Linked DNA regions of Homo sapiens: all the other regions are linked to region 4. Evidence: fine-mapped expression QTL. A gene starts in region 4. Each other region holds a variant in brackets. All regions are shown on one strand. Distances are between the middles of the regions.

Region 1 (6,093 bases), 120 kb after region 4:
GACCACGCTGTGTCTGGGCATGACAGGCAGTGGCTCTGGGGTGTTTTCATCTACTTCTCTCCAGAAGGAAAGGCAGACTGCAACGCGGTCATTCCAGTGAGGTGAATCACTTCCCCACTTCCTTCCTTTTCACTCATTATCAGCATAATAAAAAGTAATACACTATCATTCACTAAGCATTTAACACATAGCCGGCCTGTACCTAGTGCTATACTTCTTGTCTAAATATAAATGGAATGACAAGCTAGGTGAGAAACTTGCTCAGAGATCCTATTTTCTCTACCTTGATACTATCATCCATCAATCAAAAGGTCTGGAAAACAACACCCTATGAGCGTCCTCCTCTGACGCTGGAGGACAGCTCGCCTCCCTCACTGACCTTGCACTCTCGGAAACCAGCAAGCTTGGGGCGACAGCTCATCTCCACGCAGGCCTTACCTATCCGAACCGTTCCAGCAACACTCAAACTTGTCAAAGATGCAGTCGTTCTCATAGAGAGAGCAGAGCTTGCTGCGCAGGTACTCGTGGACCTGGTGGGTCTCCACCGGCCTGCTCTCCATGTTGAGGTCCCACACCTTCACCGACAGGTAGTCTCTGGTCATCATGTACCGCCCACTATGACTGAATTTTACATCGGATATGGATGAAATTATTTCTGAGAAGAAGGACCTACTGCTGGGATCTTCAGGCTCTTCAAAAACTGAAAAACAAAATAAAATGTTTTCAGCTTCTGTTTAAAAATCAGAGAACAAATCATTTTCAAGTTCAAGTAGGAAGTGGCCCCTTCAGAGAGACTCTGGAAGGGCTTGGCCTCAACACTAGGTCTTCTGATCTTTCTGATTCTCTAGGTTTTCTGATCTTCTGTGACTTCCGTGGGCAAGAGCTTCGGATAAGACATTCTAGCACCAGCTATGGACAAGGGATGGGCATGAGAAGCGTAGACGCCCAAGTCTCACCCGGACCCTGAATGAGAATCTCTAGGCAAGGTCCTGGGCACTGCCATCTGTGGGAGCTCCTCGGGGCATCCTGATGTGTGCCCAGGTTCAGCACCACCGCATTCCTGTAGGAGTGTCTCCGCGTCCTCATGGCACCAGGCCCGAGCACGTGAAATTCTATCGCATACACATCACAGGAAGACACAAACAGCATTATATGGTCATGCAGACACAGCGGTCTGTGCCTCTAAGAAACTGCCTGCTTTTTGGAGGGTCGACAGTTTGTGGGTCTGCAGGAGTGACCACCTTGACTGGCAACGCTGTGGTCCTGATTTTAACCACCAAGACGGTCCCGCCGGTCAAAGCCAGCCAGCCAAGGTTTGTCTCCAATACTGAATATACACAAGCTCTACTGTGACAAAACTGGATTCCTATTTTCAGAAAGATCCTCCCGCCTCAACCTCCAGGGTAGCTGGGACCACAGGTGAGCACCACTGCACCTGGCTTGTGCTTCCTTGACCTGAAGCTGCTTTAGGTTTTTTCTCTTTTTTCTTGATGCAGGAGCCTGTGTTTGTCGGCTTAGCATCTGAAATTAACTTGAAGCCAGCTGTGCCGACGCCAAGCATTTACTCAAATAAATCACTCTGATGACAAATAGAACTGGAATCTGAAATTATTTACTCAAGAATTTTATGCTTAAGATACAGGCCAAATGCTACGAAACACTCATCCTCATCGCAGGAATTCTAGTAGAAATACGAATTCTTAAAAACACACTCAACCTCAGGAAAGAGAACAGGCGAAAAGGCTGCTGCACACGGTCCATGGGCACATTCCACCGAGGCACTGGGGGCGCCGCTGCACATGAGCAGCGGCTCAGTCTGGTGGGATTGACTGGCGGCTTCCCCATCAGAGGAAGTCACTGGACGTGTGTCTACCTGCTGGCACTGGAGGAAGGGTCAGCAATGTTTCAGGACACTGGGACACGCTGACTACAGTGCTCTATAAAGTCAAGCCCATTCTTTATGGCTAAAAATAAAAACAAAACCAGAACCTCCCTCACCTAAAAGGAGCTTGAAAGCTCACTGGATTAAAATGCTAGACTTTCAGCTAAGGGAAGTGGCTTCCAATCCAGCCAAGCTCAACATGAACAGGAGCTCATTCCAACAGCTGGGAATGGCCTCCTGTGTGCTGGCGGCCTCAGCCCAGGTCTCACGCACAGAGGCAGAGGCAACGGGTGGCTCTTGGCGGGACTCAGTGCTGGCAGCCTCTGAGGAGACACCCAGGCTCTGGGCAGAAGTGACCCCGCTTCTCGGTGGTGCCAAAAGCACACTCACCCTACAGCCATAAGCCTGTGGGAAGCATGACCTCGAGTTCCACTTATTAGCAGCAGCCTCTGACACAGCCACACTCGGACGGCCCCAGCAAAGGAGGGCTCCCCAGTTGTGCAAAGGCACTTGGGGAACAGGAAGAACTCTCTAAGTCTTTGGAGTGTCTGAAGAACAAGTGGCTCTAAATGAGATGCTTTAAAAGACGCCAGGCGTGACCAGGTGCGGTGACTCACACCTGTAATCCCAGCACTTTGGGAGGCCGAGGTAGGGGGATCACCTGAGGTCAGACCAGTCTGGTCAACATGGTGAAACCCTGTCTGTACTAAAAATACAAAAACTAGCTGGGCATGGTGGCACCTGCCTGTGGTCCCAGCTACTCGGGAGGCCGAGGCAGAAGACTTGCTGGAACCCGGGAGGCGGAGCTTGCCGTGAGCCGAGACTGTGTCACTGCACCGCAGCCTGGGTGACAGAGCCAGACTCCATCTCAACAACAGACGCACTTACACTTGGAGTGTCTGTCGCACAGGGCCGAGGAGCGCATGTCACACAGGCGGATGGTCCCTTTGCTACTGCTGTAGACGAACACGTTGCACTGGTGCGGGTGGAACTCGGCTGCAGTGATGACTTCGGTCAGCTCCTCCATGTTAGCAGGCTTGATGTCCACGATGTCTGGGAGTGCATGGTTAAGGCACAGTGCTCAGCTCAGCTGGTTGTTAATTAGTCTACATTCAGTCACGCGAAATAGGACGCCAAATAATCCACGCAGTGAGGTTTAAGGGATTAGCTATTAAGAAGGCTGGTTACACATCCCGAATTCCAAAGGAGCGCCTGGTAAGGGGATTGGGATGAGCACACTCAGACTACAGCAACGCCCCGGCCCAGGGGGAGACACAGACAAGCGAACACCGCTTTCATCTTGCTGCTATTATTAATGTTATACAGAAAGCCCTTAATAGCAAGATAGTACATACTTAATCATATAAATAGGAAAACCAAGCTAGTACCATCTGTGCAAAATCCCACACTCCCACACAAAACTACAACACAAGAATGCCGCCAAATTCCAAAAGATGCTGCTCTTCCTGACATGAAGAGCTTATTCTGTGTAG[C/T]TAGAACAGATCCAACAGAAATCCTATACAGAAATCCTTCAACTGAAAAAAATAAGAAAGGGCAGAATTCAGCTGTGGGCCAATTCAGACTAGCAGTCCCAGTTTCACCCTTCAAGCTGAAACAACTAAGAAAACCAACATACGACATGGAACCCCAGCTCAAGCCACTGGACAGCAGAGGGAGGACGGCAGGGACCCTGGAGAGGCTGCAGACGAAGCAAGCCCCATGCTCCCGGCTGCTGGCTGGAAAGGGGCCCATGTGAGGAGGGCTGGGGCCACCCAGACTGTGCACAGCCACAGAAGAACACAGGTTCTAACTGGAAGCTGCTGCTCAGATGGGTGATTAAACACTGCTCTAACCTAAGCCAGTATTTTCTATTATTCATTAGCAAATTTAGAAAAAAAAAAAGAACACATAATGTTGGTTTTTCAAATGTAGCCTATTTAAAACTGCCTCTGATTAAACCAGGCAGGCAGTGGACTTCAGGTAATTCCCATTATACAGATAACTTTTTCCCAAAGGTAGAAAGAAATTTGTATTTTTAGGGACAAACATTTCAAATCACAGAGAACTTACATCACAGGCTGCTGTGCAGTGATGGTATTTACAAGACTAGACTCCGAGATACAGGTGTATAAAGGGACGAGAGAAATTACTATCTAAAGAGCACCCTCGGGAAGACGCCAGTGTCCCTCTGAGGAAGGATACTAAAGCTTCTATCTGTGATTTCTAAGTGCCATAAATTAATTCTCAGGTCATCTGCAGAAAGATATGTTTCATGATCACTATTTACTGAAATGGAATTTATATGATATGTGTGAGCATTTGCAAAAATTCGCCGTGGACTCGCTTCTACCATAAGATCCATGGGCTTCAATATTGGGACCTAAAAATGGAAGGAAATAGGAATTCAAAACAAAGATCACAGCAGCACATAATTAGAACACTTATAGTAGATAACGAAAGAGGACAAGTTTATATTCATGGCTAAGTAATAATTCTGTACAGGCAATACCCCCAAATAACCAATTAGCAGAGTTATGAAAATATGCTACAAAATGGAATACTGTCTATTCCAAGTCTTCCCCTTGCTTCCATTACCGAGGTCGACATGTTCCTGCTGAAGAGAAGATCAGCTGGCAGGGTAACAAACTGCCCAGGCACCGAGGCCTGCGGCTCCCTCTCCTGTGTGTCCTCCAGTGGCCACACTGAGGCGCTGGACAGCAAAGTCCTCCTGGGTGGCTCAGCTGCACCCCTCCCTTTGTCCTCTCCTTGCAGCTAGATGCACACACCTCTTCTCACTGCACTAGGACTATGCTTCTCGGTGCAAACCCCACAAACCTCCACTGGCTCCAGGTACTGGCAGGGTGCACAGCAGGGTGCTGGGGAGCTGAGGATATTCCATTTCTTGGTCTGGGGCTGGCTACATGGGCATGTGCACCCTACAAACATTCATGGAGCTGGTCACTTATAGGGCAGATGTCTTATCTGGAGGTATGTATTATATATTACACTTCACTTGAGGTTAAAACAAAAAGTAGAAGGTACCTCCCGCCCCCATCTCTGTGTTGAGTGCTGTGGTCAGGGAGGCTTCCTAGGGAAGCCCAATTCGCACAGAAATAGAAAGGACAGAGAGGAGTGGGCGCTGGCTGCAGGCCGCCTATGGTCAGAGGTGAGAGCTCAGGCGTGAGGAATAGCATCACACATGAAAAAAGGAAAAAGGCCTGTGTCTCACTAACATCCAGCTGGAAGAAAAACATAAGCTTTAAAATCAAAACAAAAAATTAATGATAGTATTTTTTGTTATTCTTGTAATTAGAAACCAAAAGGGAGAGCCTTGAAAGCTTAGGGGAAAAAGAAAAGCTCTCAACTGAGTCTTGTCTGGCTGAATTCTGTAAAAAACCAACTTGGAAAAGTGTGTGTAGGGAGGCTTCCCTCATTTTAACCCAGGTAGTGCTGACCACACCCTTGGATTCTCTAGAGCAAGAAGAGTCAGTTCTACCAAGTTCAGGCTTAAAAACACACACCTACCCCAATCCTCTAACAAATTTCCCATTAATCAAAACATATGATAGCTGCAATACTTACAAAGATTCCTTCTTTTATTGAAAACATTTTAATTTGCATATAAAATAATTTGCTTTCATTTTTAGAGATGGGGTCTGGCTATGTTGCCCAGGCTGGTCTTTGAACTCCTGGGCTCAAGTGATCCTCCCATCTCGGTCTCCCAAAGTGCTGGGATTACAGGTATGAGCCACCATACCTGGCCAAGATTTCTTCTTTTAATTATATCCCTTTTCTGGCACTAAAATAATTTAAGAGCAAAAATTTAAAAACAGCAACATGTCTGACTCTTACCCAGTTAGGCTCAGATACATAAATAGCCCACTCTGAACTGTTAGAGAGGTAAGATCTCAAATACCGACCTAAGTCAATGTACAGAATTACCTGTCTGTGGTCTCTTCCCCATGCACCAACTAATGAAATAACTAGACTTCTCACACACCTTCAGTAGGGCCACCAATTATACCCGTTTTATTTAGGCTAAACCTACAAAAGCAGCCTTGAATAAAACCAAGACTGGGCCTAGTAAAGGCCTACTGTTCTCCCAAAATGAGCACGTGAGCTGATGGGTTGTGGCAGGGTCTGATCAGGAGGAACAGGGGTTTCTGAGGGTGGGGTGTGCACAGGTAACTGGGTGGGAGGTGGTGTTGGCT
Region 2 (6,093 bases), 100 kb after region 4:
TTTTAATATACTAGTCATGATGTGTGTTGTATTTTAAAAATTATCTGCAACCTTAATTCAGCTGAAGTACTTTATATTTCAAAAGAATGAATAACATTGATAATAAAATCGCTACTTTAAGGGGTTTGTCCAAAATAAATATTGTGGCCTTATATATCACACTATTGTAGAAAGTATTATTTAATTTAAATGGATGCAGGTTGTCTACTAAAGAAAGATTATATATAACTATGCTAATTGTTCATAATCAACAGAAACCAAGATAGAGCTACAAACTCAGCTGTACAGTTCGTACACTAAACTCTTCTTGCTTTTGCATTATAAGGAATTAAGTCTCCGATTATTAGGTGATCACCCTGGATGATCAGTTTTCTGCTGAAGGCACCTACTCAGTATCTTTTCCTCTTTATCACTCTGCATTGGTGAATTTAATCCTCTCCTTTGTGTTCAACTTTTGTGTGCTTTTAAAATCAGCTTTATTCTAAGCAAATCTGTGTCTACTTTAAAAAACTGGAAATGGAAAAAAAAATAAATCTTTGCCAAATCCTTCAGATTACTGTATTTACATATGGTTTAAAATCAGACGTCATGATAGCTTCTTAATGAAACCAGGACTGGTCCCTATTTTGACATTATCTTTCCTACAGCAAACTTTTTAGAAAGGCTGCCTGCCGCCTTGATGTTTCACCTTTCCACGCTTAATTCGGGTGTTAAATCTAACGTTTTCATTTGTAAAAATCTTTGTTGATGCTACCTTGGAAGCAGTCATCTCTCAGTCTTACATTTGGAGAATGTGGATGGCATGACATCAGAATTCCTTTATATAATTTAACTTCAGAATAGTCTGAGATCATCGAAGCACGATGGTCAAGGGAATTCCGTTTTTGTTTTAGAGCAAATATGTTTGCTGTTTGTCTTTCATCACAAACATCAGTGGAGTTTCAGCACCTTACAGAGCTCAGTGAACCCCCTGGTCACCATCAAAGTTAGCACACAACAAAGCCAACCACGTGTCCCCCTCACAGATGACAATGGCTGAACTCTGAGTGAAACCACCTGTATGGCCGGGCACAGTGGCTCACGCCTGTAATCCCAGCACTTTGGGAGGTTGAGGTGGGTGGATCACCTGAAGTCAGAAGATTGGCCTGGCCAACATGATGAAACCCCGTCTCTAATAAAAATGCAAAAATTAGCTGGGCGCAGTGGCACGTGCCTGTAATCCCAGCTACTTGGGAGGCTGAGGCAGGAGAACCGCTGGAACCCAGAAGGCAGAGGTTGCAGTGAGTGGAGATCATGCCACTGCACTCCAGCCTGGGAGGGAGAACGAGACTCCATCTCAAAAAAAAAAAAAAAAACAACCAGTTGGAGGTACTAAGCTCTGGGACTGGGCCAGTGTGATGGCTCCACACCTGTAATCTCAACACTTTGGGAGGCTGAGGTAGGAGGATCACAAGTCCAGAAGTTCGAGACCAGCCTGGGGGAGCATAGCAAGACCCTGTCTCTACACAAAATACAAAAATTAGCCTCGTGTGGTGGCACACACCTGTAGCCCCAGCTACTTGGTAGACTGAGGCAGGAGGATCCCTTGAGCCCAGGAGTTCAAGGCTGCAGTGAGCCAGGATAGTGCACACGGCCTGAGCAAGAGCAAGACCCTGTTTCAGAAAAAACAACTCTGGGACTGGAGTGCTTTAGACAGATGGGAGACCAAGAATCAAGTTTTCTGGAGGTGTTTTTCGTTAGATTGTAACATTAGACATTTTATTAAAAATGAAACAAGTTTGATGTGTGTGCGTATCTGAATGTTTTTATCTTTGAGGTAGGATAATGGCAGTGTGCCTTCTGAATAGCTTCTGTAAATAACCCTTCTTTTCTACAGTGGTTAATACAAATAACTGCCCATAACACTCATTTTAATCATTAAGTTTATAAAATTAACATTAAGTGATTCTGATATAAAAACATTGGCCACTTGGCCACTATTTACCTGATATTTACTCTGATGCAGACATTTGCCCATACACATCTGCTTAGGGTGTGGAACGTGACGCCGACACGTTGCTTAGAAGGAATGCACATGGCTGCAAGAGAGAGGAGTCGGCAACACCTCAAAAAACTCCAGCCATGCATCTATGCTTTGGACACACAAACCACTTCTAGGAATTCACTCTGGAGACAGACCTAGAAACTTCTACATGCACATGCACAAGGATATAACTAAATACGCAGTATTTATTATAACATGATTGTATTAAAATATATGAAGCAACCGAGGTGCCCACGCATAGAGACTCGAGAGAACGACAGTGCTGCCCTGCAGGGCCGGTGCTTTGCCACTCATGCACCAAGGGGAAGAGCTCGCGATGAGAAGGGATTCCAGGGTATGTGAAGTAAAACACAGTGCAAAAATAGATGTCTCCCTAGCAGAAAGGAAAGAACATTTGGAAGCAGCTCCTTGAAACAGGAAACCTGTAGCAGTTTGAAGACAGCCCCCGGCCAGGCGCTGTGGCTCACGTCTGTAATCCCAGCACTTTGGGAGGCTGGGGCGGGTGGATTGCCTGGGCTCAGGAGTTCGCGATCAGCCTGGCCAACATGGTGAAACCCCGTCTCTACTAAAATACAAGAAAATTAGCTGGGTGTGGTGGCGTACCTGTAGTCCCAGCTACTTGGGAGGCTGAGGCAGAATTGCTTGAACCCGGGAGGTGGAGGTTGCAGTGAGCCAAAATCGTGCCACTGCACTCCAGCCTGGGCGACAGAGCGAGACTCTGTCTCAAAAAAATAAAAGCCCCCTAGTTTTTTTGACAGCCCTTAATGAGTGATGGGGGTCTGTGCCCCTTCAGCTCTGGACTGGCCAACAGGATAAGGAGGGAGTGATGCCAGTGGTGCAGCACCACTTTCTGGGCCCACCCAGCCTTAAGAAACCGGCAGCCGCCACTTCCTGTCTCTGCGGGTGCATGCTCTTGGCGCCCAGCCTCCGTGCTGGGAAGAAGCCACATTGCTCAGTAGAGAGGCCTGGTCAGATAGGATCCAGCAGCTAGCACCCCTGCCAGCCATGTGGCCCCCTCTGTGGATCCTCCAGTGCCAGGAGAGA[T/G]GCCCTCGCTGACAGTCTGGAGCACAGATGAACTGAACCTGCTGAGCCCCGTCCAAACTGCAAATGGGAGGACAAAATACAGGATTATTTAAATATATATATAGTATACTTTATGTGAAAAAAGCTAAGAAAAACACATAACTGCTCATTTGTGCAAAAAAATTAGGGTGAATAAGGCAGAATTAAATGAGATTGGTTACCCCGGGGTGGAAAGAGGTGGAGATGGAAAACGGAAGAGGGTGGAAGGAGTGCAGCTTTTTGTGTAACAGACTTAGAACCACATTAATGCTTCAGATGCTGCCAAATTCAATGAATAACTGTTTTGGGGGGGAATCCCAAATGGAATACCTACAGTAAGGGAACCTCACTGTTATAAATAATAAAGCCATACTGAAGGGGTGGGCTGGTGAGCTAAAGGACCAGAGAACACCATTCGGGGTGGATACTGCAAGGTTAAAGTGACAAAAAAAAAAAAAAAAAAACATAGTAAACTCTTGCTAGTGAATTTGCTTTCCATGGGTTGGCAATCCTGAAACCACAGGCATATTAACACTGTGTGATGTTACACGTAATGACAGCCTGATTTCCCACTGCTGGACAGTCACAAGGAAGGCTAGCACGAAGCCGTGGGCTTGCTGGGTTTGGGTTAGCAGTGAGTCGCGGTTTGAGCCGGAGCTGTGCATGGGGGAGTGTGTCTTTCCAAGTGCCACTCAACAAAAGGGCCTGGAAGCAATGATCCTCCAACAGCTGTGTGCACGGCCAGCCCTGGGTCCCGGTGGTGGTGACGGTTATTTGTCTCAAAAACAAAACAAAAAAAAAACACAAAGTCACCATTAGGCAAATACCAATAACTGCTGATTCGTCGACGGAAACTAAAGTTAGTGGGTTCTTGAGAGGATATTCTCATTGTGTCCCCGCAAGATACTCATTACACCAAAGAAAACAGTAACTCTACAGTGAAGAGACCTGGTAGACACCACCTACATCCTGATTTGATGCAGAGGAGGCCAGATCTCTTCCGTGTTCTTGCCAGAATGCATAATTGCAGTTTAATCACGAGAAAATATCAGGCAAACCAAAATTGAGGGGGAGTCTACAAAATGCCTGCCCACACTTCCCAAGTGCTCGGGTCCTGAAAGACTGCAGCAGAGACTGGAAGGCAGGGAGACAACGAAATACAACGTGGGCGCTTTGGGAGGGCCCTGGACAGGAAAAACCGACACTCGTGAGACAGCCAGGCAGGTGCCAAGGCAGGTGCAGGTGAGGCCACTAGCCCTGCACGGTGTGAGTCCCCATGAGGCTGCAGGACACACCATTGTTAGGGGGCTGGGTGAAGGCTGCAGGATTTCCAAAACCTGTTCAAAATTATTCAAAGTACAACGCTAAGAAGGAAAATAAATAGAAGATACCTTTTTACTAAAAAAGAAAAAAAAAGTGTGGTCCCTGGACTGGGGTGTCAGCGCGCTGCCTGGGGGCTTGTTAGAAAGGCAGAGCCTCAGCGCACAGCCCTGTGGCGTCAGAAGCCGCGTCCGACGTGTGGCAATGCCACCGTGCAGCAGCCAGTGAGGCTCCACGGACGGTGTGGACAGCCCGCCCAGACGCGCGCAGTGAGGACAGCCAGGCGCCCCACGGCATGCACAGGATGCTACCCGATGTGTAGAAACGGGAAACAGGAGTGAATCTTATTTGTGTTTGTATAAAAACTGGAAGTAACCCCCCAAGAAACAAGTATCCAAAATGATCCAGGGGGCCAGAGGCAAGGGCAAGACTTTGTCACCTCCTCTGGGGACTTGTGAACGCTGTACGTATGACCAGTTCACAGCTTCTTTAAGAAAAAACACTTCTAGTAAGAACCAGGGTTACACTGTGTTCAGATATTTAGGTTTGGATAACAAATTTCCCCTGAAAGTTCTTGGAATCATAAATTAGTGTTTCCCATCCTCCTGGAACAGACACACTTAAAAAGACATCCCAACCTTTTTTTGAGATGGAGTCTCACTCTGTCGCCTAGGCTGGAGTACAGCGACACAATCTCGGCTCACTGCAACCTCCGCCTCCTGGGTTCAAGTGATTGTCCTGCCTCAGCCTCCCAAGTAGCCGGGATTACAAGCGTCCGCCACCACATCTGGCTAAATTTTTTGTATTTTTAGTAGAGACGGGGTTTCACTATGATGGCCAGGCTGGTCTTGAACTCCTGACCTCGTGATCCGCCCACCTCAGCTTCCCAAAGTGCTGGGATTACAGGCGTGAGCCACCATGCCTAGCCCCAAAGATAATTTTCTAACAACTCCAAGGCAAGCAGACGGAGCTCTATCTGGACCTCTGATCGGCGGAAGTGCAGCCACCTCTCTGCCTTGGCTGGGCTGCGGTTGGGGGTGGAGCCCAGCAGGCAGTCACGTGGTCTGGGCCTGGCCATCTGCGGGGTTGGTGCCCAGTGCAGGCAGCCCCTGCCAGTTCTGACTGGGTGGTGCCAGTGTTTTGTTTTTGCATCTACACACCAGCGATGGACGGTCCCTGCAAATCTGCAAGGGACCCAGTCTCCAGCTGAGTTTCAGGTCCAGGAACACAGCCTGTTAGAAACGTCCAAGACACGTCCCAAGGATAAGAAGAAAATGGAGAGCTACAGAGCCTAAGACAATGGGAGTTGCAGAATCGAAAACTATTACTATCAGAAGCATTTCCCAGCCACCAAAAGGAAAATGAAAACGGAACGTGACTTTAACCACTCACCAGATGGAGACTGTGATTATTAAAGAAATCACAGGTTTCGCCTCTTTGCAATCTGCATCTGGTGAGTGAGTGAAGGTGACCGCGTGGAGCTGGAGAGCTTTCTTAGGACTGGACCGCCCCTCACCCCAAACCTGTTTCCCGTGCGTGATGATGACTTCACGAAACGCGGTTTCAGTTCTAACCTCAGCATTCCACTGTCGGGGATCCTGGCCACTGCGAGCCCCGCTGCTCGATTTGGTGTCATCACCGGGCAGCTAGTCTTGTATTTTAAGACA
Region 3 (6,093 bases), 210 kb after region 4:
ATCTTGGTTCACTGCAACCTCTGACTCCCTGGTGAAAGCGATTCTCCTGCCTCAGCCTCCAAATTAGCTGGGATTATAGGCGGCTGCCACCACACCTGGCTAGGTTTTGTATTTTTAGTAGAGACAGCATTTCACCATGTTGGTCAGGCTGGTCTTGAACTCCTGATCTCAGGTGATCCACCTGCCTCAGCCTCCCAAAGTGCTGGGATTACAGGTGTGAGCCACTGCACCCGGCCTTGAACAGCTATCTTTTAGATCAATTAAAAATAATGAAAACAAATGCTTTTATTTAACCTTCATTTACTCCTCCTCTGACACTGTTCCTTTCTCTTTCTTCATTTATTTTAAGGATTTCATTAGTCTTATTTTAAGGATTGGCCATAGGATTGTGGAGGCTGCTGGTCTGAAATCTGCAGGGTGATTTGCAGGCTGGAGATCCAGTGAGGGGCTGGTGTTGCAGCTCGAGGCCGAGGGCCACCCTCTGGCAGAGCTCCCTCTTCTCCAAGGCACCTCAGCCTTTTTTCTATGAAGGCCTTCAGCTGATTGGCTGAGATCCACCACGTCCCAAACGGTAACCTGCTTTACTCCAACTCTACTGATCTAAGTGTTAATCTCACCTAGAAAGTACTTTCACAGAAACAGCTAGAACAATCTTTGGCCAAATGTCTGGGTACTGTGGCCTTGGCGAATTGACACATAAAGTGAGCCATCCCAGGGGCCGTAAGCAATGGCGCCCCCAAAGGAAGGCTCCGTGAATGTGCAGGAGAGCAAAATCCTTGATGTGAGACCTGAGCGGAAAGTTGAGCAGGTGCAGCTTCAAGAAAGGAGGCTGAGACCGGCAGGCTTGTCTGTGTGGAGGAGAAGCATTTGCAGATGGTGCGTGTACACAGAGCAACACCTGCAGAAATGCAGGGAGGTCACAGGTGAACGAGGTAGTGTCATGAAAACCTCAGTCCTTCCCCTATGGATGTGTGAACGGGATGCCACCTAAATAGAATTTCTAAAGAGATGTTTTCCATTTTCTTTTTTGAAATAAAAAGAAGTATTTAAATTCACATCGAGGAATAGTGTCTGAAAATAGTTGAGAATGTTTTCTAAAGAACAGTGAGCCAGGAATCACACCTTATCAGATACTTAGATCCCAACAGAGCCGATGGAATCCTGACGGCATGGTTTTGGCCCCAGGAACATGCAAGAAGAGCTGCCTGGAGTGGGTCCAAGTTCCAGGGGAATTTCAGGCAGCTCAGCGGGAACTGGGGGCTTGTATAACAGAAGGTGCTGGCATGATGGGCGATGAAGGAAAGATCCAGAATCCTGTATCGCACCATGCATAAAAATAAACCCCATCGAGAATGAAGAGTTGGATGTAAAGTGTGAAAATATTAAAAGATACCTAAAGATAGCATTCTATACCCTTGGGATGGGAGAGAGCTTCTCCCATAAGACGGGATATCTAAAAGCCATAAAGGGAATCAGACTTTGTCTTATGAGGTGCAAAATTTCCCCCTTCGATTATTTGCTTCTGGTACATTTTGCAACATTTAAACAAAAATTTTAAACAAAAAGTGAATATCTCTTATATTAAAGCGTTCTGACACCATGATAAAAAGACATCAATAGTAAAGCAGAGAATATGGAAAGGCATCCCACGGAACAGGAGACACAAATGGCTGGTGAAGAGAACAAAACAGGCTCCTGCTCCCAGCAGTCAGGACGTAGCTGTGGTGTGGAGGCTGCAAGTCAAGCCCAGCAAAGGTGACTGGGTGTCTAGGGACCAGGTTCCTATGCAGGTAAAGATGGCCAGTATTCAGTGGCTGGGGATCCCCAGACCAAAGCAATTTGTCAGCTCCATGGGAGTCGTGCAGGTGTGACTGGCTATCAGACTGCTGTGGAACGAGGCGACTGTATCAAGGTCCCCAGGCTCTAGTTACTTTAGGAGACAGCCTGGTGGCCAAAGAGAACTGGTTCTGTCCACCAGGTCACTGGGAGGGTCCTGGGCCCAGAAAAAGGCTTGTTCATGAAACTGCTTTCCAAGACAGTCACACTGGGAAAAAAATGTCTCTAAAATTCTGGTTCTTGAGCCATTTCATGAGGAGCTGAAGTCCTAAAAAAGGGATGGAGTTTGCAGTGACTCGTTGCAGTGACTCATTGCAGTGCCTCGTTGCTGTGACTTGTGAGGCTGAGTGGGCATCGCTACCTGCATACCTCTCCCCAGACTCCGTCAACCACCTAGGCTGAAAGCTGTTCTGATGGGAAGATTCCATCCCAAGCCCCTGGTGCCCTCCCCACTGGAGGATTTTTAGCGAGATGAGAGGCTGAGCCAATTCTGGACCAGCCTGGACAGCATCCCTGTGGATGACCTGAGACATACTCAGCTGTCCCCACTGGCCGGTCCTGATTCATCCCCAAGACTCTGAGGAAGAAACTCTGCACAGCTGACTGCTGCTTCATGTCCTCCCTCAAAACTACGTTTTTGGTGTTGCCACCCTCCTCCTGGCCATGTGGGTCTCCCACGTTCTCTGCTGCCGTCCAGCAGGTGACCCTGGGAGGGCTTCAGTTTCCCTTCCAGTGCGGTGGAGTCGCCTTAGCCTGATCTTTGCAGGGACCCCATGGCCCCACCCTTTGCCCTGCCTGCAGAGGGCGCCGGCCGAAGGGCCCGAGCACCTTTAAAGCCTGCCCTGAGAAACACCCGCCTCGAC[C/T]GCTGTGGCTTGACACGCCTGGCTCACACAGCGTGAAACGGAGGCCTTTGGCCTACTTTAAAGAAAAGGGTGGATGTTTGGGGAAGAAAATGAGGTTTCCTGAAGTCTCCAGCCCCAGTCTCGATGCCGGAAACCTGCTCGTGTTTCAGTATCCGATGCCCCGCCCTCCTGGGCACCACTGCCCTGCTCTGCGATGAGCAAACAGTTGGTGCCTTCTGTGTGCAGCCAGGATTTCTCTTTCACCCTCCTCCCGACCGGCTGCCGGCAATGGCGCTTTGGCCCCACTGCTGAGGGGCCGCACTGCCGAGGGGCCGTCGAACCTGTATGGATCTAAGACCCATCACGCCTCCCGCCGTCACTCAGGGGTTGCGGCATCATGACCACACGCTTCAGAAACATTCTCTCTAAAAATTTGCCCCACATCTCTCCTGCTCAGCATTCCTTGGACTTGAACAGCTATCAGGAAGGTCCCTGTTCCCCCTACTCCACCCACTCACCATGCATTTGATTCTCTGAAGTCACTCCAGGCCCTTGGGGAGGAAATGGGGCGCAGTATTGTCTCATCCTGAAACCGGCTTAGAGCCTCCTGATGGGTTTGCAGCAGGGCCAAATCTGTTGAGACAGCTTCCTCCCACTCCGTGGCTCCATCCGTCAACACCAGCATCCTTTGTCTGGGTGTGAATGAGAGCCGGGAACGTTGGTCCTCGCTCCTGTTCTCGGGTGGCACGGTGGCGGCTGAGGCTGGCCTCCTGTCCCAGGCTTTAGAGATCGTGGTGCTGGCTTTGGAGTGGGCTGTGGCTGAAGGCTGTGCTGCCCCTGCCTGAGGACCAGATGGGGATGGGACCTCCACAGTCACTCCCCTGGGTGCTGCCAACCAACTCAGCATGGCCTCATGAGGACTCAGGGTCCTGTCCCCGCCCCCCCGCCCCTTGCCCTGTGGCCCTGGGCAGCCGCCTCAGTCAGAGGCAGGCTCTGAACCACTGCACGCTGACAATGAACTATACTAAGAGACCTGTTCGGGATGGGGGTGCCCAGGGCCGCCCCGGATGAGTCTCCGGTTTACGCATCTGCATGGACTTCTCAGAAAAGGCCATGGCTTCACCCCTCAGCACCCCCGACTCATGTGCCCTGCAGGTCCACGGCCTCAGTTTGACTTGCTTCTTCTGGCCATGCTGGGTCCATATCCTGCCCCAGGCGTGCACCCAGGCTTCTCCTCCATCTCTTCCTCCACACCAGACTGGAGAGTACCACTGGAGTTGGCAGAATCATGTCCCCAAGGATGCTGCTGTCCCACTACAGGACCTATAGATATGCTAGGCTATGGGGGGCCATGGGGGGTGCCGTGAGGGGCTCAATATGCTCATCAGCTGACCTTACCCGACGGGGAGGAGCGTGGAGAAGCCGAGGGGCTCAGAGCCAGGGAGGGCAATGTGAGGGCTGGGCTGGATGCTGCTGGCTCTGAGGACGGAGGCAGCTTCCTTCTAGAAGCTGGAAGGGGCGAGAGAAGGGATTCTCCCCTGGATCCTCTAGAAGGAACCAGCCCTGCCAGCACCTGGACTTTAGCCCAGAGAGCCCTGTTTCACTCCGTACGGACCCCTGGGGTGTGAAGAAAGATGCCTGTGCTGCTGTGAGCCACCAAAGTACGTGGCGGTTAGTTCCAGTGCCACAGGAAACGCGCATCGGCACCACCAAACAAAACACCAGGGCTGTGCCCGGCGCCCAAGGCCAGGTGAGATCCACTGTCTCCCTGGCTGGGCCTGGCCGCACCTGGGGCCGCTGCACTCCTGCTGCCCATCTCCACGTGTTCTGCTGGCTTCTCTCTCCCTGTGGCTGCCCGAGGCATTGATCTGAGCTCACGCCTGCCCTGACGGGTTTCTGGCTCACAGACCTCTACTGGCCAATCTCCACTGGCCTCTCTAAGTTCTGAGGCGTCTCTGGAGTGTCTTCCGCCTGCTTGCCTCTGGGAATCTGAGCTTTTCCTTCTGGATTCTTCTGCCATGGAGCTTACTCTGGGGCCACCATAGCTGTGCTCTGCCTACCCCACCAGTATTGGGGCTGTGAGTGTGGTTTAAGGGTCATTAACTGAACAATACGCAGCATGGGCCCCCACCCAGGCCATCTCCACGCAGCTGCCCGCGGGGCAGAGTTCAGGTCACTCCGGGGCTCAACACCCTCCTGAGGCTCCCATCTCAGACTCGGCCTAAAGCCAAAGCTTTGAAGGCCCACAGGGCCCTGCCCAGCCTCCCCCGCCCACCCCGCTCCTCTGATTGATTTCCCTCCCCTCTCTGCTCCCTCCTCCCCCAGGCTGGCTGCCCAGCCTTCTGTAGCCTGCACGTTGTAGGGCCCCAGGGCCTTCGCACCTGCTCCCTGCCTGGAAAGTCCCTGGGGTTCTGGAGGCTGTTCCTCACACTCCCGGGAAGCCTTTGCTCCTTTCCCTCCTCAGGAGGCACCACCCCGACCTGGGCACAGCTGTGACCATGGGCCCTCCTGCTCCAGCCTGTGAGGGCGACACCTCGCCCGCTCCTGACTTTCCAGGGCAGGAATGTTGGGGGTCGGTGACATTCAGAGTGTCCCTCTGGGGTTACAGACACCCAAAGATGTGCCCAAAGACACTGCCAGTCACACGCTCCGCCAGGGTGGGCACAGCCGGTCACAGCTCTTGATTTCCCCGGTGGAGATGCCCGCACCTGCATTTCCAGGGGGTCCAGCCTCACCCTCCTGGGCTCTACCCCACCACCGATTCCACCCACCTGTGCTGTTCGCTGTTGGCTTCTGCCCCAGAGCACCAGGGGCACCGCTGGCTCCTGCCGCTGCAGCTTCTGTGCTTCTGGGAGGCGTGGCTGTGGGAATGGGCTTTCAGCATGAAGGGTGCTTTGGTCTCTGTGCAGGGATGGGCACTGACAGGACAGGCCTCGGGGTCCTGGAGGGAGGAGCCACTCCCTGGGGACAGGCGGGCCATGGATGGGCCTGGTCCAGGGCATGGGCTCTGCCAAGGCCAGCGTCCGGAGGTGCTGGCTGTCCCAGAAATGCTGTGTCAGCCCTGAATGGGCCTCCGCTCGTCTTCCCCATAGCCCTGGGAAGGCAGACTTTTAAACTGGCCCCCAGGTGCCCGTCCTTGCAGGGCACACACCTTCCCCCTGTCATCCAATCACCACAGTCCAGAGGCTGCTGGGGAGGGATTCTGCAGGTGTAATGAGGGCCCTTGCTCAGTGAACCTTCAATGGGGGCATGTGCTGGGCCCTGAGCTGGTCAGGTGAGTCCTTAATGGGGCCTTGAAATTCTGGGCAGCTGGGGTTCAAAATGGGAGGGATCTGGCCCGGGAGGATTCCTCTGGGGCTGGGCTGGGTGACTCTGAAGATAGAGGAGACACGCTGACCTGGGTGTGGGCCTGGCT
Region 4 (6,093 bases):
ACATCCTTCATCCTGAGCTGGCCGGAGTCACTTTCCCTAGGTTTGAATTCCGGCTTCACTTTGAGGCCCGGTTTTTCTGGAGACCAATTCTCTGTGCCAAGGAGAGGGTTTCCCATGATGCCCCTGCCAGCTGTGCTTGCTTGGAAACTGGCAACCACAGGACATTCCTGATGTCATGTCCTGGGGTCAAAAACCCAAGGCAATCAAGAACTCAGCTCCTGAGAGCCTTCCAGAGGGACCCCAAAGGAAAGTAAGCATGGCCCTTGCCTGCAGCACAGGTTTGATAAATATAAGACGTCTGCAAAGAAAGCAGGCCCAGGCAGCTCCTGGGGCTAAGGTGCAGGACAGGAGACACCTCCAGTCTCCGGCTCCCAAAGCACGTCTACCTCACATCGCTCAAAGCCCAGCTTGGGGTGCCAGACCAACAGGGCTATATTGAGATAAGAAACACCTGCCCAAGAGGTTCATGGATAAGAAACACTTGCCCAAGAGATTCATGGAAGAAGCCTAGGAGGCCAACATAGGCTCTTTCAAAAAGAGTCATCTCAGTGGCTAGTGTCCTGAACTTATTCAATCCCCGTACTAAAGAGGGCCGTTTCAGGGTCCAAATGGAAAATTAACACCACCATCCAGCCACATCCTAGCTTGCCTGTCTGGAAACTCAGGAGTCAAGGAAAAATAAAAAGATATGGCATTGGTCCTGAATGGAATTCAGTTTACAGAAGCCCACAGTCCACACGGAAGCCACAGTGCACACGGAAGCCCACAGTCCACATGGAAGCCCACAGTCCAGACCACGCAGAAACCCACAGTCCACACAGAAACCCACAGTCCAGTCCACACGGAAGCCCACAGTCCAGACCACACAGAAACCCACAGTCCACACAGAAACCCACAGTCCACACGGAAGCCCACAGTCCACACGGAAGCCCACAGTCCACACGGAAGCCCATAGTCCAGTCCACACAGAAGCCCACAGTCCACACGGAAGCTCACAGTCCAGACCACACAGAAACCCAGAGTCCACACGGAAGCCCACAGTCCACACAGAAGCCCAGAGTCCACACAGAAGCCCACAGTCCAGTCCACACGGAAGCCCACAGTCCACACGTAAGCCCACAGTCCACACAGAAGCCCACAGTCCAGTCCACACGGAAGCCCACAGTCCACACGGAAGCCCACAGTCCACACGGAAGCCCAGAGTCCACACGGAAGCCCACAGTCCAGTCCACATGGAAGCCCAGAGTCCACACGGAAGCCCACAGTCCACACGGAAGCCCACAGTCCACATGGAAGCCCACAGTCCAGTCCACACGGAAGCCCAGAGTCCACACGGAAGCCCACAGTACACACGGAAGCCCACAGTCCACACGGAAGTCCACAGTCAAGATCAACCTTCCAAGAACATGTATAGGACACTTACTTCTCTTGGAGGAGCTCGATCCAAAATACGGGGGCAGAGGCACAGCTCTGACTGACAGCTCCCTTGCTGTGGGACCACCACCTGGTCGTTTGGATATTGTTAGTTAGGACCTAAAGTAGTAAGGCCTTCCCAGGGCTGTCGGGAGAGAAGCAGGAGCTCCGTGCATGTTCTCTGCCACAGCGTGCCCTTAGGTTTCACAGGGGTGCCCTCAACTCACAGGAGAGGCAGGGAAACCTCGGGAATAGCAGGAATGCCAATGCCCTCCCCCCACCCTCAGCCTTGGAGAAGGAATGTGAATGTGCCAGGCGTCTTGTCTTCTCCAAGCACATATTGATCATATTGATCTACTCTGTGGGACTCTTAGGGAACCTCATCCAAACGCCAGCCTTTTGCCGGTAATGCTGTGAATGTAAACTGAGGGTCCTTCCTCGGCCCGGCTCACTTTCCTCTTCTGCTGCTCTTCTCGGGAACTGAGGTGGCGTTTTACCACGGACCTGCTCAAAGGCCCGATCCACTGAGAGGACTCTCAAGTCTACTACTCCAGGCTTGGCTTGGAATGAGAAAACCGTTTTGTGACTGGTTCTCCCACACTGTGAACAACAAAATCAACGGCAGCAGCAAGTATTTACATCCCTAGGGTGCCTGCATGGTTTCCCGGCCAGTCTCACTGACATCTCAATAAGCATCAGTACAACAACGTACTGCCAAGTTACCTGTGACACCCTTTCCACCGCAGCCCTGCCAGTCCCAATCAGCAGTGGATTTTCTTTGAACAACTGTAGAAACTGAGGCATGGTGCAATAACCTCAAAGAGTGAATTAGTAAGTTAATAAGCTGTTGTTTCCCAAAAACCTGGAGTTCCTTGCATAAGAAGTTATATCAATGAGTGATGTGTGATTCTTGATTAAGTTTTAAAGAGAAGACACCATCCAATCAATGCGCAGGTAGGTGGTGAGGCCTCAAGCCATAAAGATGACCTATTCTTCAAAAGGAAAACAAGCAGCAAAAAAGTCCAGCCGGTTACCCCACGGAGCCAGGAAGCACCCGGACGCCGCAGGCCTCCCGGGCTGTGCAGACAGCTCTCTGGTGCTATGTCCGTGGGATTCTCACCACAGCCGGCAATACACAGACTCAGCCTGGCTTCCCCAACCCACCCCACCACGGCTGCCGTGCCAACAAGCATCCGCTTTACATATGGGATGGAACACACACCCATGCTTTAAAGGAGAAACCTACTACTGGGAACGCAGGCCCAAGCCTCCTCCAAATGTGTGCATGAGCATGAACGTGAAAACGGATAAATGAAGCATCTTCCTCTGTGATCGTCCCTGCACCCCTCAGAGGACAGACCCCAAACTGTCAACTTTCCAGCCACATACGTGTGCGCACTAAATACAGAAGAGCACCAGGTGGAAAGAGCCTGTGCAGAGACAGCCAAACCGAAACCAACAAAGCCTCTGCAGCAGTCAGAAAATAAACACTCACATTCCAAAGCTCGCTGTCTGCTCCTCTCTCCCATCGCTCTGCTCGACTGTGAGAATCTTTCCCGGCTCGTCCAAGACTCAGTCCGGCTTTTGCGCAAATCAGCTCCGAGCTTCTATGACTCAGCAAAGAGCTCGGCTTTTATTTTTCAGATGGAATTTACCACGCTGTGACTACATCCAGGGGGAGGAACCATTTCCCCGAGCTGTTTCCAAGCAGAGCCCTTGAGCCAGGATCGCCCAAGCTCTCCCTGTGCACCTTAAGGCCAAGCACAGAGGCATCCTCTGAGCCCCCAGCCCAGCTCCCTGCAGGGCGCGAACAGACGCTTCTCGGTGGGGAAGGGGCCCGCAGCTCTGCACGGCCGGGCGGCCGAAGGCACAGCCACGCAGGTGAGATCCTGAAGGCAGCTTGGCTCTATTCAGATGCAGAGGCGGCCTGGGCTCCGGGTTGGCCCGGCGGCAGTCTCACGTGAAAACCAGCGAGCGGCAGAGGCCACGGCTGGGCCATCCCTGCCCTCACCGCCCCCTCGGCTTCCTGGCTGCTCCAGGACCGCGTTCTGGCCGGCTTTCCCTCCTGCTTGGAGAACCCCCTTCAAGATTGCAGAGTGAGCGGGTCAATAATAGGAACGAACTTCCACTCTGAGGGTATCTATTTTAAATGTCAGGTGATAGAAGGGATTTGCACACACTCAACACTGAGGACTGAAAATGCAGACGGGAACCAGACACAGGAGACCAGCAGCATTCCTGTGTGAAGGGCAAGCACGAGAGCTCACCTGGCCCGCCAATCCCACACGCAGTCCATAATCACCGTCCGGAAAAGCCGTGTGACAGCCGCTCTGTAGAAAACGCAGGGTCTGACAGGGTTTCCAAGCAGGAGGCCGCTTAGAGTCCATCTGGGTCCGATTCCATCAAGGCAGCCTTGAGGGCTGCCGGTGCGGGTGGCCTGAAGCTCCTGCCCTGCCCTGTCTCCGGCCACCAGGGCCTGCGCTGAGACTGCATCGGAGCCTGGACCCCAGAGCAGGCCTGCACGCCCAGGTTCTGGGGGTCAGCCTGGGAGGACCCTACATCCCCCCTGCTCCCAGCCCGCTCTGCCTCAGTTCCCTCGCCTGCACCCTGCCTGCCCCCCACAACCTGCCTCTTCTAGTCAAGGCCAAATGTCACTTCACCCCAAAGCTGAGACCGGCAGGCATCACCCCGAGAGGAGCCCACAGAGTGAACGCCGATGATAACATGTCAGAGGATGGCACAGGGCAGGCCAGGACTTCGGGTTACTTCTGCTGTCTGTCTAGATCTGGCCACCCTCATAAGTTAGAGCAAGCAAAAAATTGTCCTGATTAAAACCATGGCCACACGTCTGGCCAAACGTCCAGGGTGATGCAACAACCCTCCAAGGGTCACATGTCCTGACTCGTGTGACGGAGCCGCCCGCTGTCCCTGGTTACCAACCATCGCTGCCTCTATGTCACAGGGGAGGAGGCTGGAGCGCCAAGAGGCCATGCGGCTGCCCCACAATCACATCCCTGTCAGGTCCCGGAGCTGGATTCAGACCCGGAACGGTGGGTCGGAGATCCAGACCCCTCCCGTGTTGCCCTGAAGCAAAGAGGGTTCCCATGCCGGCGGCTCGGGGTCCACGCCCGACCCCGAGGGTGGCTCCTCCTCAGTCGGAGGCAGGCCACGGGGACAACCTTCCTGACGAGGGCAGTGCCCCCTCAGCCCAGCTGTCCTCCTGCTGGAATTGATCCTGGGGAAACAACACAAGGATGGTGTGTGCACAGATTTGACTTTAGTCCAAATACTTTATAGCACCTACCCCGTGCCAGGCGCTGTTGTAAGCCTTTAAATATAACTCACTCAGGGATGCTTACGGCAGTGTTGTCCATAATATAACAGGGAATAATTGGAAACATCCTAGACGTCCAACAGAGGAGTGATTTAACAAGCGATGGGAAACGCACATACGTCCAAATACAATGGGGCCATTTAAAAATGTCCCCAGTCCAAGCTTAACAGAAAGACGTAAACAACCTATTGTTTAAGTTTTTTAAAGTCAGCCATAAAAAAGCTGGTATCGTATGCTCACATTTCTGTTTAAAAAAGTGTGTATAGTATGATCACATTATTTGTTTTTAAAAACGCGTGCCTGTGTGTGTTGCACTCAAGAAAAACAAAGCCTGAAAGCGTAGATACCAAGCTCTAAAGTGGCCATAGCTCCAGGTGATAGGATCTCAGGTGACTTGATATTTTGTTTTGTATCTTTCTGAATTGTATGTATTTTTTTTGTAGAATTGGAAACAATATTTTTAGAATCAGAAAAAACATCTACTTTCATTTCCAAACAGATGCACATGCGTGTATGTGCTTTTGATTCCTGCAGTAAACGTGCCCCTTGCAGACGGTCCGTTCTCTCCCGGAGCCCAGAGGGAGACACTGTCCCTTCCAAATCCCCACGCTGGCTGAGGCGGAGAGCAGGTGGGTGCTGGGCCGGGCTGACACCCGGCGTTCCAGCTTAGGGAGCAGCCTGCTCTTTAAATAGCATCCATTTTTCTAGTTGTAAAAGTGAAATGTGCTCATTGTAGAGAATTTGGAAAACACAGGAATAGATGAATAAGAAAACCATCCTTGCTAGTCCTCAAGAAGCTGAGCTTTGAGCCTCCCAGCCACATTGCCAGCTCCACCCTAATTCTTCCAGATCCCAGAAACCGAGCCCCAGCACCTGGGATGGAGCCAGCACCCCCAGGACGTGTTCTGAGGAAAAGAGGCTTAAACAGCAGGCCTCACTTGTGTCACAGGGTCTGGGAAAACCACGACCTCCAGTGGGTCTCTATGTCTCACGTGGCTGCCTCACCAGGCACCACGAGGCCCAAGTCTGATCCCACAGCCCGTCCCTGGCTTCCCTTTCCCACCCACGGGCAGTTGTCACCTGTCCTTTCTGGGGGAGCTTGGCCACTCCCATGATCACACCCAAATCCAGGGCTCTGCTGCTCCATCGCTGATTCCCAGACCCACCCGTCCTGCTGGCCCGGTGTCTCCATACAATTCCTCGGGGGCCTCTCAGACCCGGCGGGTCCAAAAATAACCTGCCCTGCCCCAAACTTCACTCTTCCTTCTATTATATTGCAGGTCCTGACACAGCCATTCACCAGTTATTATCCAAGCAAAAATATGGCTGCCTTCCTTTTCTCCTCC
Region 5 (6,093 bases), 75 kb before region 4:
GTGAAGTCCCTCCCGAGTGCCACCGAGGCTTCTAGCCGAGGTCTGAGCCACCTCCCTTAATTCACTTTGCTGTGGTGGCTCCGAACCATGGGGCCACAGTGGCTCCTGCTCTCTCTGGGGATAGCTTCCAAGGGAGAGGTGCGTTTCGGGACAGGACGCAGGGTCAGAGGATCCATCAGCCGGGGTGGGGGGTGGGCGAAGGCGTGACCTGTGGTGCCCGCCCCCGAGTGCTTGGTCCCAGCTCCCTGCCCCCAGGCCGTCCTGGGCTCCTCCCATCACCCCAGCCTCTTCCCTCCCTTAAGGGGTCACAATCGTGGATGTGAGCCCTTGGGTTGGAGAATGCTTAGCAGAGAGGGAATTCCAGTTAGTCCTAACCCTGTTTCCGGACAGGGAAACGGAGCCCACAGAGGGCTGTGGGCCCCCTGCAGCCTCAGGACCGTGGCAGGGATGGGCCCACGTCCATGTCTTCAGACGCCTGTCCTCTCCTGCCCCCTTCCTTATCCTGAGGCTTCCTCGATTTCCACAGTGAGGAGTGACATTTCCAATTATAATACAGAATCAGACTGTGGGATGCCGGCTAGTCTATTTTCTTCATTAATCTTTTCTGTATCTTCTAGTTTTTAAAATAACCATGCAGCACTTCTCGGCATCAGATTTTCCTCTGATTCTAAATGACATTAAACTTTTTTTTACATGCAGTTTGGACATTTTTACTCTCTAAGCAAAGCTTCTGAGTTCTTTGCTTCCATGTGGCCCCCGAGCAAATGTTTCTCTGGCACCCGACAGGAAAAAGGGAAGACAGGATGCTTTCTCCAGCTCCTCCAGCTCCTGGCGAGCTTGGCCAGGAGGATGCGGCTGTTGCCCCGCCCCCGCTGTGAGGGAGAAAGGCTGGGCCCATGAGGCTCTGGGATGTCTCGGGGCTGCTGTGCTTTATGATGCTCTGAACCGAGGCCTTGACTTTTTCCTTTCTCCAAGGGTCATGCAAAAATTAAGTCAAAGTGAAAGAGGCGATATTTAAAGTCCCCAGTTACGGAGACAAATCTCTCCGAGCCTGAGGAGGGGACGCCCCCTCCAAGGCCAGCCCCCCCCACCCCGACTCAGGACAGGAGGAGGGCACAGAGGGGTGGAGCTCTCTCTTAGTTTTCACAACAGACGTCCCCAATGAGGTGCCAGGAAGGCAGGAGGGAAACCAGCCACGTCACCAGGGCGGTCTGGGTGGACAGAGGATGAGGCTGGCGGCTCCCTGGGGCACTAGCGTGGACCACGCTGGGGATGCTCTGTGGACACTCTCCCCTCGCCCCAAGAGGTCCGTCCCCCACCCAGCTCAGCCACCCTAAGTTGCAGAATTGCCAGACACTGGCATCTCTGGCCCTGCAGGGTGGTTTTGGGGTGGGGAGGCCAACGGGAACCCCACACCCCACAGCTGCCTGCTCTGGAGAACCCCTCAGCTCCCCCGGAAAGCAGCCCGTCTCGCTGTGAGGGGTACCAGGTGCAGGTCCTCCAGCGGCTTCCCCTCCGAGCCTCAGTAAGGGAGGGTGGGGCGGCAAGAGGACCCCCGACCCATGGCCCACGCTCTCCCCACGAGGCCTGGTGCCTGCACTGCCCTCCACGGCCCGCAGAGGGCACCCGCCAGCCACACTGAGGCCTTTCCTGGGGGACGACGCTAAGGTGAGCCAGGGAAGTGGGCGGAGGGACACGGCTGCTGGGGTGCTGCCCAGTGGGGAGGCCGGGGGAGAGGGGCCGGGGCCGGGGCCGGGGCAGGCACAGCCTGTGTGAGCTCAGCCTTTGAGGATGAATGACCTCCACAAGTTTCAACACCGAGCTCGATGCTGCCACGGGCCATCGCCATGCTGCCAAGAGTGGAAGAGGTGGTCTGGAAGGAGGCCCACCCTGGGCGCTGTGGGCCCCTGCCACCACTACCACCCCGCCTCCCCCAGGACCCTTACTCACACCTGTGCCTGGCACCGCTCTGGGCCAGTCCCTCCCACCTGGGCCAACTCCCAGCACCGGGATCCCCAATCCCTGGTTTTGATCGGCTTCCATGGGCACCACCAGGACTGCAGGCAAGGGCAGGAGAGGAGGGGCCCGGGCCCAGGAGGGCTAGTGAGGGGGGTGTCCCAGCCCAGGCCACGGGGTCAAGCGGGAAGGCACGAGGGGGGCCGGAACGCGCGGTGGAAGTCACGTAGACCTTAACTTCTCGCTCTGCGTCCAGCGTCCCTCCAACCTGCTCCTGCAACAAAGCGTAGGCACGCTGCAGGGCCTGGTACTCCATGGTCAGCTGCCGGAACCTCAGCTCCGTCTCCTCCTTGGCCATGCCCTGGAGAGACACGGATGCCACACACGCACAGAGACACAGTGTCAGTAGCCAGCACCTCCTCCGATGGCGGGGCCCCGGGGCTTCCCTTCTCCCCAGATATCAAATGGTGTATGGGGGGGTCTCTCTAGCAGCATGAGGGAGGGGACCTGCTCCAGTGTGCAGGGAGGGGCGGCTGCCTGGGGACTCAGTGCTGTTTGGAGAAAGGTTTCCCTGGGGAGGGGAGCACCGAGCCCTGGGGTGGGAGCTGAGTCGGCTGCACGGCTGAGGACAGGGTGAGCCTGCTGGGCTGGTGGCCATGGCCAGGGGCTCAGCTGGGGCTCCTGCTTGCTAGCCAGGCTGCCCTGACCCAGCAGACCCTCTGTTACCAACCAGGCCTGCACACGCTCTGCTCTGCTGAAACACGTCCTGGGAAGAAAGCTGGGCTTTGTGAAGGGGGTAAAGTACCCCAGGCAGCACGTCTCCTCCCAGGTGCACTCTTGCAGGCTCACCCTGCTAGCTGCAGTGCCCCCCGTCACCCCAGGGAGAAGACAGGTGAGCCTGCTGCTGCCTTCAAAGGGTCCCGGTGGACCCCCGGGGCTGGAAGGGTTGGCCACGTCTAGGAGTGACTGAGCCCAGAAGCCTTGGCCTGGCCCAGTTCCCCTGCCCAACCCTGCACCTGAGGCTGTGAGAGGATGTCTTAGATCCCTCAACAGGTCTATGGCCATTGGGCCACCCTCCAGGGTCTGCCACGGGAGGCCCAATCCTTGGCTGTGCCATTGACTGCAGACCCCACTCCTTGTCCCACAGCCACAGGGTCTGGGTCCCACAACACCAAGCCCCGACCTGGTGCTGAAATGGCTGCCTGCGCCTGAGGGTAGCCGTCCTTCTGGAAGAAGGGGCTGGTGGGCAGACACACCTGTGCTGTTATCAGAAAGAAAACTCCTGCTCAACACCCCTCACCCTAATGTGCTCTTGGCACTGAGACCAAACTCCCTGATGAGTGGTTCAGACCCTCCTGGGGAGGCCCCTTAGGAAGGGAGAGCTCACCGTACCCCTATGCAGAAGGGGCGTAGGCTCAGTGGCAGAAGGAGGCATGGTTTGGCCTTCATGGGAGCAAGAGCGGGCCTCAGCCCACACCCCAAGCCATGTCATGGGAGCTTCTCACCGTGCCCGAGTCAGCTATCAGCGGGTCAGTGCCAGTGAGGGCCGCGAAGGGCTTCCCCGTGAAAAGCCGGCAGCCCATGCCCAGCCAAGCCCAGGACCCGGCAGGAGACCCTCGTTACCTCCTCCAAGCCCAGGACCCGGCAGGAGACCCTCGTTACCTCCTCCAAGC[C/G]CAGGACCCGGCAGGAGACCCTCGTTACCTCCTCCAAGTCATCGTCCGGGGTGCACGGGGTCTGGTCCGTCCTGTCTGTTTGGTAAGAGACGGAGGAGCCGTCGGATTCCAGGGAAGCCTCTTCGTCGTATCCAAAGAAGGTCTCCACAACCACCGGCTTGTGACCAAAATGCGACGTGTCAGTTCAAACCAGACCCAGGCACAGCCGCCTCCTCCCGCCGCCTCCTCCCGCTGCCCAACGGTGGGGGCCGCAGCCCCACCCTGCGACACACTCCCATCTCTGTCCCTGGCACAGGCCGAGGAGGTGGCCTGGGTGTGAGGGGCGCTCTATGGCAAGGCTGGCAGGGCGGGTGGGGAAGGGGCCTGGAGTCCCGTGGGTGAGCGGGTCCTGGCCCTGCCCTTGGTGGTGGGGAATGAGGCCCTTCGTGGGGCACCGTCCCTGCGGTTCCCTGAGGGTGGTACCCGGGTTAACAGAACCGACGATGGGTGCCTTCCCTGTGTGATCTCATTCCCAGTGATGCATTTCTGTTCCATTTTTTAAAGTTTCAGTCCTTGACTGATTGGAATACAAACAAAAACGGGGTCCTCCGCCAGCTGGTGTGAGAGGCCCTGCCTTTGGGGACCCTCCAGGTTCACCCCGACGTCTGCATCTTTAGGGCCCCCTCACCCCTGCCTTCAAGAATCGAAGAGGGACTCATCTGGGTCCCCTTCAGAAGTGTTACAAAATGGAAAGCCCGCCATCTTCTTCAGTCCCTTCTGCCGTGGCCACAGTGGCCTCCAGGTCTCCTCCCAGTTCTTCTGCCAGAACCTTCCAGCAAAACTCCCTCAGGGACCCCAGGGCCACCCGACTTCCCCTACTCCCCGCCAACCACTGGCCCCTGTCCTGTGTGCCTCCCCACACCCTGTGTCCTCCCTTCACAGGGCCAAGGCGTCTGCTGGACACTTCCAAATCCCAGAGGGGTCCCGAGCGGGGAGAGCCTGGACAGCTCCTCCTCTCCACCTTTCAGAGGGCAAGTGTTTGTGACCGAGGAGCATCTCACAGTCTAACAGCGAGAAAACACTGCTGACAGCTTACAAGCCACACACACACTCACACTCACACATACACACTCACATACTCTCACACACACTCACACATACACACATGCAGACACATATACACTCACATGTACACACAAACACACACACACACTCACACATACACACTCACATACTCATACACTCACATACTCACACACGTACAGACGCATATACACTCACATGTACACACATACAAACACACACACATACACATACACACTCACACACATACACAGATGCATATACACTCACATGTACACACATACACACACACACATACACACACAGATGCATATACACTCACATGTACACACATACACACACACACTCATACACACACATACACAGACACATACACACATGTACATACACACTCATACTCACATACACATGCACACACACACAGATGCATACACACACATGTACACACATACACGCACTCACACACACATACACATACACACACACACACACACACTCAACATAAAGCAGGAGATGAGTTAGGTCCTTTGGCAGCTGCTCCAAAGCCTCCCTTAATAAAAATCATAGGTTTATCACAAAGGATTCTACTGTAGAGAAATGATGACAGGTGTTCACATTTCCTGGGGACGTGGGTCTGCCCTGTGGGGCCTGTGGATGAGGCTGCCACAGCCTGCAAGTGTGGCCGAGGACGGTGAACGGCAGGACAGGCGAGCGTGGGGTGTGTGGCACAGCCAGGATGGGTGAGTGTGAGCAGCCTCAGCCGCCCGTCCTCAGAGCCGTGCATCCCACAGGTCGTGGGGACTCGGACCCTACACAGGCAGTGAGGACACCAGAGCCGGCACCTCTTCATTGCTAGTGTTGCTGGTATGGTTGTTACCAATTCCTATCTTCTCTTGGAAATTTGAAAGAAACAAGTTTATTAAAAATGATAAACAGAATATTTTCTTTGGGTCCTATTTTGGTCATTTCACAGTAACAATTTTTAGAAATAATAAAATTGTTTTTTCATCTCCAAAGACTGATTCCTACTAAGCACACGCCAGCACGCTCTCCACACACACCAGCGCTCTCCACACACGCGGGCGCGGTCCTCGGCACACACACCCAGCGCCCTCCACATACACCGGCGCACCCCTCTCCGCACACACCCGGCGTACTCTCCACACACGCGGGCGCGGTCCTCTCCACACGCACCCGGCATACTCTCCACACACGTGGGCGCGGTCCTCGGCACACACACCCAGCGCCCTCCACGTACACCGGCGCACCCCTCTCCGCACACACCAGCGCTCTCCACACACGCGGGCGTGGTCCTCTCCGCACACACCCGGCGTACTCTCCGCACGTGCCGGTGTGCTGTTCCTTACCTTGGGAAGTTTTGCCATTTTCTTTCTTTGCTTCC

Evidence for each region.
Region 1: its variant is fine-mapped to the expression of JAKMIP3 in whole blood (TOPMed, PIP above 0.99).
Region 2: its variant is fine-mapped to the expression of JAKMIP3 in blood mononuclear cells (TOPMed, PIP 0.91).
Region 3: its variant is fine-mapped to the expression of JAKMIP3 in spinal cord (GTEx, PIP 0.95).
Region 5: its variant is fine-mapped to the expression of JAKMIP3 in whole blood (TOPMed, PIP above 0.99). The same link has a PIP of 0.9 or more in gastroesophageal junction, prefrontal cortex, skeletal muscle and sun-exposed skin.

What each region holds. Positions count from the first base shown.
Region 1 is chr10:131,942,137-131,948,229 of GRCh38, reverse strand. It overlaps PPP2R2D (protein phosphatase 2 regulatory subunit Bdelta), which reads right to left. Exons shown (of 9, transcript NM_018461.5): 6 at 4,085-4,262; 7 at 2,771-2,935; 8 at 439-700. Among named protein-coding and RNA genes, the nearest start is that of BNIP3, 37 kb to the left of the region's middle. RefSeq lists an enhancer at 2,446-3,275. The variant C/T (reference allele first, on the strand shown) is at 3,376.
Region 2 is chr10:131,962,144-131,968,236 of GRCh38, reverse strand. BNIP3 (BCL2 interacting protein 3) reads left to right here. Exons shown (of 6, transcript NM_004052.4): 6 at 1-553. It also overlaps a transcript of PPP2R2D not described here. Among named protein-coding and RNA genes, the nearest start is that of BNIP3, 17 kb to the left of the region's middle. The variant T/G (reference allele first, on the strand shown) is at 3,089.
Region 3 is chr10:131,855,624-131,861,716 of GRCh38, reverse strand. It overlaps LOC105378565 (a long non-coding RNA gene), which reads left to right. Exons shown (of 2, transcript XR_946487.4): 2 at 350-1,055. Among named protein-coding and RNA genes, the nearest start is that of PPP2R2D, 42 kb to the left of the region's middle. The variant C/T (reference allele first, on the strand shown) is at 2,700.
Region 4 is chr10:132,062,877-132,068,969 of GRCh38, reverse strand. It overlaps JAKMIP3 (Janus kinase and microtubule interacting protein 3), which reads right to left and starts at 3,024. Exons shown (of 24, transcript NM_001323087.2): 1 at 2,909-3,024. RefSeq lists enhancers at 725-1,225, 3,500-4,247.
Region 5 is chr10:132,138,144-132,144,236 of GRCh38, reverse strand. JAKMIP3 (Janus kinase and microtubule interacting protein 3) reads right to left here. Exons shown (of 24, transcript NM_001323087.2): 9 at 6,059-6,093; 10 at 3,658-3,786; 11 at 2,189-2,317. Among named protein-coding and RNA genes, the nearest start is that of JAKMIP3-AS1, 46 kb to the left of the region's middle. RefSeq lists enhancers at 895-1,741, 1,742-2,589, 5,941-6,093. The variant C/G (reference allele first, on the strand shown) is at 3,630.